2 linked regions of the Homo sapiens genome follow. The protein of the gene in region 2 purifies or fractionates together with the protein of the main gene of each other region. This does not show direct contact. Each region holds a gene or a part of one and is shown on either strand. Other genes may lie near its edges.

Region 1 (3,652 bases), on a different chromosome or scaffold from region 2:
CTCCCTTCTGATGAATTCTTAGCTTCTGTGACTTGCTGTGCAGCCCAATAGAGCTTTATAGTTTCCTTAAGTCCAATTTCTTGATTATAGAGGTTGCTTCAACCTAGCAGTTTAAAGTCAAAGATTTGAGCCAGTTGATAAGGATGTTTCCTTGAGCAAGTAACAACCTCCAGGTGAGGATCGGTGAAATGCAAGTGATACTAGTGCTTTTCCTGGAGGGTTGGTGTGAGGATTAAATGAGTTAATGCATGTAAAGCACCTACTCTATGTTGTTCAGCATATGTTAGCTGTTGTTTCTTTTACAGATGAGAAAACTGAGGTTGGAGAAGTACAGTGATTTGTCTGAGATTCAGTATTCAGTTAATTATAGACCTGGATCTAGAAACTAAATCTTCTGATTCCTGATACAGTTGCTGAAATGCCCATCGTTTAAAGTTAAAAAAAAATTCTTTAAAGTTTTGTCTGGTCAAATAGCTCCCCTTCTAGCCACACTGCTTTGTTGATATGTTTTCTTAATTTTTCATTCAAATGATTTGTAATCTGAAGAGTGTTTTAGATTTAATAAACTTTTATAGTTTATTATATTCTATATACTGGAGACATAGATAATCAATTTTTGAGTTTTTAAAAATCTCCTTTCTAGAGAAAGATTTAGTGTGTAAGTTGAATGTGTCTATTAACTATTTTTTCCTTTATGATTTTGGATTCTGAGATAAGATGGCTACTTGTACTGTTTCTATCATTTTCATTTTGCAAATCAGTTTTTGATGTTCAGAATTAAGACCAAGAGCAGCAGTTTCTCTCATTGCTTAGTTCTCTAATTAGGTATGAAATTAACAGTAAAGTTGGTCACTGAGCAATTTTAATATGACATTTGGTTTTATAAATGTTATGATAAGCTCACTTTGATTTTAGTTCTTAAATTTAACTTTTTAAAACCTTTTCTTCTCTTGCAGTTGAAAACAATCCTCGAACAGGAAATCTTGGTGCACTAATTAAGGTCTTCCTTTCTAGAACCAAAGAACTAAAACTTTCAGCAGAATGTCAGAAGTAAGCTGGCTAATTAAACCATGTTTGCTTTATATTTAACAATGTGAATTTTAGTTTTCATTTATTGATGGAAATGGACTGTGGTCTTTTGAAAATCTCTGTGAAGGAATTATTCTCATTATTAAGAAAAAAAGGTAGAGAGGTTTTAGGTTAGTGTCTAAGTCACTGGGGTGAGATTATAGATTCGGGAATCTGATTTCAGCTTTTTAGACAATCTTTAGATTATATTCTTTAAGAAGGTGAATAATGATGTAATTATCGTTAAGAAGGTAATTCCCCTCCCCCCCATTATCACTGCTGCTGCTATCTAGTTTAAATGATGACTTAGTCTGAGTTTTATTTCATTCTACATCTGTTGCAGTTATTTCCGTTATATTCTTTACATCAATGGAAGGTTAACTTTTTATGCACTGAAGCATTTTTCAAAACCATGTTTGGATGTCAGTCTCTGAAAAGATTAAAATATTTTGCATTGTCTTGCTTATAAACAAATTACATTGAATCCAATAAAGTTTTTCTTGGGAGTTCATGGTCATTAATACAAATAAAAAGTATTTTACCGTGCTGCTGGCAATGCCTCGTCGAAAATTTTGGTTACATATTTGCATATATTCTTTTTATGTTACCACAATTTTTTAAATTTTTTGGTAGCTTTCTTCTCTTTTAATCGCATGTACGTGGTATACCTATTAAGAACAAAGAACAGTCATTCCTACAGTCATCAGTAAAGATTTTTATTAAGTAGATTCACTATGTAAAGTACATGGAATGAACTATGAAGTAAAACATAATATCACTGGTACAATGAAATAAATCATGAGCCATTAAAAGATATGGACATTATCCTAATATTACCAATAGGATGGACAAAACGGTTGTCAAATCAGGAAGAAATCATGAACTAGAAATAAACTATGGTGCTTATGTTTAAATATTGATTCTTGTATGATTTTGGTCTTTCTAGCCACATCTTCATTTGGCAGACACACAATGCTTTGTTTATTATTTGCTGTTTGCTGAAAGTGTTCATCTGTCAGATGTCAGAGGAGGAATTACAACTTCATTTTACTTATGAAGAAAAATCTCCTGGCAATTACAGTAAGTATTGTTTTTAAAGATGTTCTGGATATATCATGTGTAACATTTAAGGATAAAATTTCAGGAATAAAAGTATGATTTTGAAAATTCCAGTTATCCTTATAATTTTCATTTTAAAATGAACTTATACTGTCATTTTTTCTTTTTCTGTGTTAATTTAAATGAGTCAAGACTCAAGCGTTTTTTGTTTTTGTTTTTCGTTTTAAATAAGAAAGCTGGTGGGGTTGAAGCTTTCATTTATTTTGACTTTCATGCATGTGGATGAAGAAGAAAGTAATATAAAAAATAAAACTCACACAAATATGTATTTCTTTCAGAAAACAGAGGTGTCAGTTTTAAATATCATTGCCAAGTCAATATATTATTAAGGGAGCCAACTAGTCAGATTTTATGGTAAAGGTTACTTTCATAGCGTGCAGCAATAGCTTCTGGGTCTGAGTGTCTTTGGGACTACGACACTTTATCAGAAGTAACATTTTCAAGGACAGTTTTATGATGCCAAAGTGTCTCATCTTTTTCTGAAGATACAGGGAAAGATTACCCTTCACACAATCTTTCCTTTCTGAGGGCAAGGCAGTGTTGCCCCATAGTTTTCCGAGTTCTGTTTTCAAAATAGATCTCTGCCCTCATCAGGCTGACAGCGTCACCTGTGTGATTCAAGGTCATATGTTAACATCTCTTGTGGGAACAGGTATTGGGAGAGAACTTTGAGATGTGTATACTTTTAATGGAGGTCTGTGTGCTATGTGGATTTCATGCATATGTATAATAACACTTTCATATACCTAGGAGTAATTTTTCACTGTGGTTTCAACTGTGTTGCTAAATACGTGTTTTTAAATGTCAAAGTCAAATATTGACAAAGGGAAACAAACGTATAAAAGAGTTACTGTTCATCCAGGTCAACATCACAATGTACTGATTTTTCAGTATATCCATGTCTATGGGGAATATTTCTTAAATTCTATTATAGAATTTTTATTTATATTTTTATTTTTATTTTTTTTGAGATGGAGTCTCGCTCTGTTGCCCAGGCTGGAATGCAGTGGTGCGATCTTGGCTCACTGCAGCCTCTGCCTCCTGAGTTCAAGCAATTCTCCTGTCTCAGCCTCCTGAGTAGCTGGGACTACAGGTGCATTCCACCAAGCCCAGCTAATTTTTGTATTTTTAGTAGAGATGGGGTTTCAGCATGTTGGCCAGGCTGATCTTGAACTCCTGACCTCAAGTGATCCACCCACCTTGGCCTTCCAAAGTGCTGGGATTACAGGCATGAGCCACCGTGCCCGGCCTAGAATTTTTAAAAACAATATTATGGGGAAGTAGAAAAGATTCTGTGGAAAGTTAACCTTTTGTGCATTCAAGCATTTCTTAAAACTATTTTTAGATGGCAAAAATCTTATGGAAATTCTGGTTATATCATTTAAATGTATTAAGGTATTATGTTACATTTTGAGCAAATGAAATGACATGGTACAAGAAAACAATAGTTTACAATACTTTCAAC
Region 2 (3,752 bases):
GCCGAGGATCCCAACGACAAGTCCCATCACGTGGTACAGAGGCAGGACCGTGTAAACCACATCATCAGCTGTGGCCCCAGATAAGGACAGCATCTTGCTCATCTGCAGTACCCGCTCATGCGTGAGGATGGCTGGCTTCGGGAGGCCTTGGGATGAAGGCATGGCAAGGGCAGGGTGGTGACATGACAGCACAGAGAGGGGCCTGACCAGAGGGATAGATCTCCAACAGCCAGGCCTACATTGGGGTTTGAGGCTCTCAGAGAACAGTCAAGTATAGGGATTTGTGGTTGGGTTCACAGGCTGAATTTGGACTGAAAGTAATATGTCAAGATCAAAGGTTTCAGTGGCTGTTTACTGGACACAGGAAGAATTCTGGCATTGACCTCTCAAATTACATTGGGGGTCAGAGTTCAGGCCAAATATCAAAATCAAGTCTGGGAGCAGTGGCTCACGCCTGTAATCCCAGCATTTTGAGAGGCTGAGTTGGGCAGGTCCCCTGAGGTCAGGGGTTAGAGACCAGCCTGGCTAACTTGGGGAAACCCTGTCTCTACCAAAAATACAAAAATTAGCTGGGCATAGTGGTGTGTGCCTGTAATCCCAGCTACTCAGGAGGCTGAGGCAAGAGAATTGCTTGAACCCAGGAGGTGGAGGTTGCAGTGAGCCGAGATTGCACCACTGCAGTCCAGCCTAGGCGACAGAGCGAGACTCTGCCTCGAAAAAAAAAACAGCCAAACAAAAAACAAATGTCAAAATCAGAGGGTAAAGTGGTTTCAGAGGTCAACACTGAGTCACAAGTCAAGTGTGGGGTCAGGTCAGCCTGAGAGTTCAGAGGCTGGTGCTAGGGCTAATGGGCACCCTCACCAGTGGTCCCCGAGGTATAGATGAAGAGGGCAGGGCTTCTCCATGTGATCCCAGCACGCAGGTCAGCAGGCACTGGGTGGGAGGGCGCTGCATCCAGGGCAGCCCCCAGAGCCCCCACCCCTGGTGTAGGGGAGGTATGGCTGAGGTAGAAGCAGCGGATGTTCTCAGCCTGCAGCTTGGGAAGGATCTCCTCCAGGCTCTCCCGGAGGTCTGCAGAGATGGGTCAGAGGAGAAACAGAGGCAAGGCTCACCTTTGAGGTTGCGAGGCGGGATCTGAGACCCACAGATGCAGGCAGAGGAGCAGCTAGTAGAGAAAAGCATCCATGTTGTTTGGTAAAGAATCCCATCATTAGTATTTTTGGTCAAATTGTGGGAAAATTAAACTCTGATGACCTGAGAACTACTTTCTGCTCATAAGTCTTGATTATAATTGCCTGTGAAAGTAGGCAGGTGGGGACCAAGGGCCTCTGCCAGTCCCAGCAGAACCCCTGTCCTATAGTCCCTGCCCTTGCCCCCTTCCATTCTCCACTGGCTCCAAGGCCCTCACCTGGGTCCACCACCAGCACCCGGGCCCCAGAGCTCAGCACAGAGTGCGCCAGGGGCATCCCCCGGCCATGCGGGTTGATCCAGGCTGTTGGGCAGCCCAGCTTGGCCAGCCCCAGCCACATACACAGGGCTGGAACGGCCTGGGAAGCCAGCACAAGGAGGGCAGTAGGCTCCCCGGCACACAGGCTCGCAGGGTCACCCAGCTCAGCCTTCAGGGCCCATGCCGCCTGGCAGGCCCGGGCATCCAGCTCACCAAAGGTGACTGAGCCGGCCCCAGGCCCCGTCCACACCAAGAGTGCCCTGCCAGGCTGCGCTCGTGCTCGCCGCTCGAAGGCATCTACAAAGGTGTCAGGCGGCTGCCGGCTCAAGCATCCCCTGATCTTCAGGCCCAGGTGGAGGATCTTGGCCAAGAAGATCACATCAGCCGGCAGCCAGCGTAGTCCTGGGGGCAGCCGTGCTGGCAGGAGGGTTAGTGCCAGGGCCGCAGCTGCCAGGCTCAGCCCATGGGGCACCCAGGGGCCGAGCCAGGGCCGTGCTAACATGGCCAGCCCAAGTAGCACGCAACATGTGGGATCCCCCAGGAGCCAGCGCAGGGTCAAGGCCACAGCGACTGGCCACACTGGCTGCCCCAGGCCCCAGAGCAGGAGCAGCAGCAGCAGCAGCAAGGCCAACTGTTGCCTGACACCCATGGTACCAGCTCCTCCCTAGGAGCAGCAGCTGTGGAGTGTTCAGGCTCACCTCTGGCCCCTCAAGAGTAGCCCAATGGCTCCTCCCCAGGGGTGGTGGCCCTGGCACTGCTGACAGTGGCTGGTCCTCTCCCCAGGACTTTGCCCCCAGCCCTTCTCCTCTACGTTTGTTTGCTCTGCCTGGTCTTGTGTGTGGGTCCAGCCCCTCTCTGCCTGGCGCTAACCCTTTCCATCACTGGCCTCTGGGTTCCCAGGTCTCTGCCCCTTGGGCACCACTAGCCTCCTTCCTGCTGTCCTGCTTGCCCCATCCACCCTCCAGGGCTGGCATCTAACTCCCTTGCCTCCCCTCCCATCCCTGCTGGGTACCAGACACTCAGAGCACAGAAATCCCTGCCCTTGGGAACACTCCAATCAGGCCAAACAGAAAAGCAACAGGACAGCAAGGTGGACCTCATTGGGAGGTCCTCCTGTGACACCCACTGAAACCCTGAGGAGAGGGGCTCAGCCAGGCTAAGCCCCTTGTCCCATGATCCGAGGAATCGTACCCTCCTGCCAGGCATACAGCAAGTGCTCAGTAAATACAGGAACACTGGCATCGCCTGGATTCAAACCCAGCTCTGCCCCCCACCCATGTGCTTGCTCTGACTCTCTGCTCCACCTCTGGCTTTGACGACGATGGAGTCCTGGGGTTCAGGAGACTGAAGTCAGCCCATGATGCACACAGTTGGATCATGAAAGCCCTGGCCTCTCACCTTGAGGAAGCAGTCTCAGAAGGTGAACCCAGAGGAGCTGCCATTGGCCTAGGAGCCTGGCAGGTCAGGCTGGGGTATGGCCTGGGGCCATACCCCACTCCACCAGCTCCAAATCCTTATGGCAGGGCACCTAGGCTAGGAGCCACTATTGTGCTGAAGAGGAGAGGGGCAAAGAGTGGCTGCTCTCTCCGCTGGATGCAGGGGCCTGGGACACTGGCTGGCCAGTAGGGGTGGTGTCCCCAACCGCCCAGCAGTCAGCCCCAGGATCCCACCCCTCACTGTTTCCTGCCCCCAACACGGCCATCGGAGCCCTCCCTGAACTTTGCCCCCAGCACCAAGGGCAGATATATGGGGGCTTATATACCCTCAGTGCAACCTGGCCCCAAAGATCCCCCTGGGCTCCCCACAAGTAAGGTGCTCAGCCATGTCCATCAAGGTCGGGGAGGGGAAGTCTTAAGTCCAAAAGACCCTTAGAGCCTGACTGGAAGATCTATGGGAGGGGCCTTAAAGGTCGTGGACAGCAGCAACCAGGAGTATGATGGGGCTTTCACGTGGCCTCCCTCTCGGAGACCCACCTCAGATGTGGCCTGCCTATCCTACTCCCCACAGGACTGAGGGATCCAAGAGAACCAAGTGCTGGTTATATATGCAGCCCACCTTAGCCCCTACAGAATAGAGGTCCTAGATGGCAAAGTGGACCATCCTGTTCCTGCCCAGGACAGCCTGTGGGCCGCATGGATGCCACCCAAGAACAGGGACGCTGAACCCTGACACTCACATCTTGTCTATGAGGGCAAGGCACGCACTGATCCAGGTGCTCACAGCTTCGTGGTTTAGGCCCCATGGCCTACAGTCCTTTATTAGAGCGAGAGTCCCGAGGCCCAGCCCCCATATATGATGGGTCCAC

Evidence for each region.
Region 1: the proteins of SLC27A5 (region 2) and DYM purify together in Homo sapiens (affinity purification with mass spectrometry; one large-scale study listed by BioGRID and IntAct). This does not show direct contact.

The regions. Positions count from the first base shown.
Region 1 is NC_000018.10:49,377,063-49,380,714, reverse strand, and holds part of DYM (dymeclin), read left to right. Parts: intron 1-956; coding exon 957-1,050; intron 1,051-2,014; coding exon 2,015-2,148; intron 2,149-3,652. UniProt on the Homo sapiens protein: Necessary for correct organization of Golgi apparatus. Involved in bone development.
Region 2 is NC_000019.10:58,509,860-58,513,611, forward strand, and holds the start of SLC27A5 (long-chain fatty acid transport protein 5), read right to left. Parts: upstream 2,134-3,752; 5' UTR 2,097-2,133; coding exon 1,409-2,096; intron 1,265-1,408; exon of another isoform or gene 1,072-1,264; coding exon 862-1,071; exon of another isoform or gene 147-861; coding exon 1-146. UniProt on the Homo sapiens protein: May mediate the import of long-chain fatty acids (LCFA) by facilitating their transport across cell membranes. Also catalyzes the ATP-dependent formation of fatty acyl-CoA using LCFA and very-long-chain fatty acids (VLCFA) as substrates.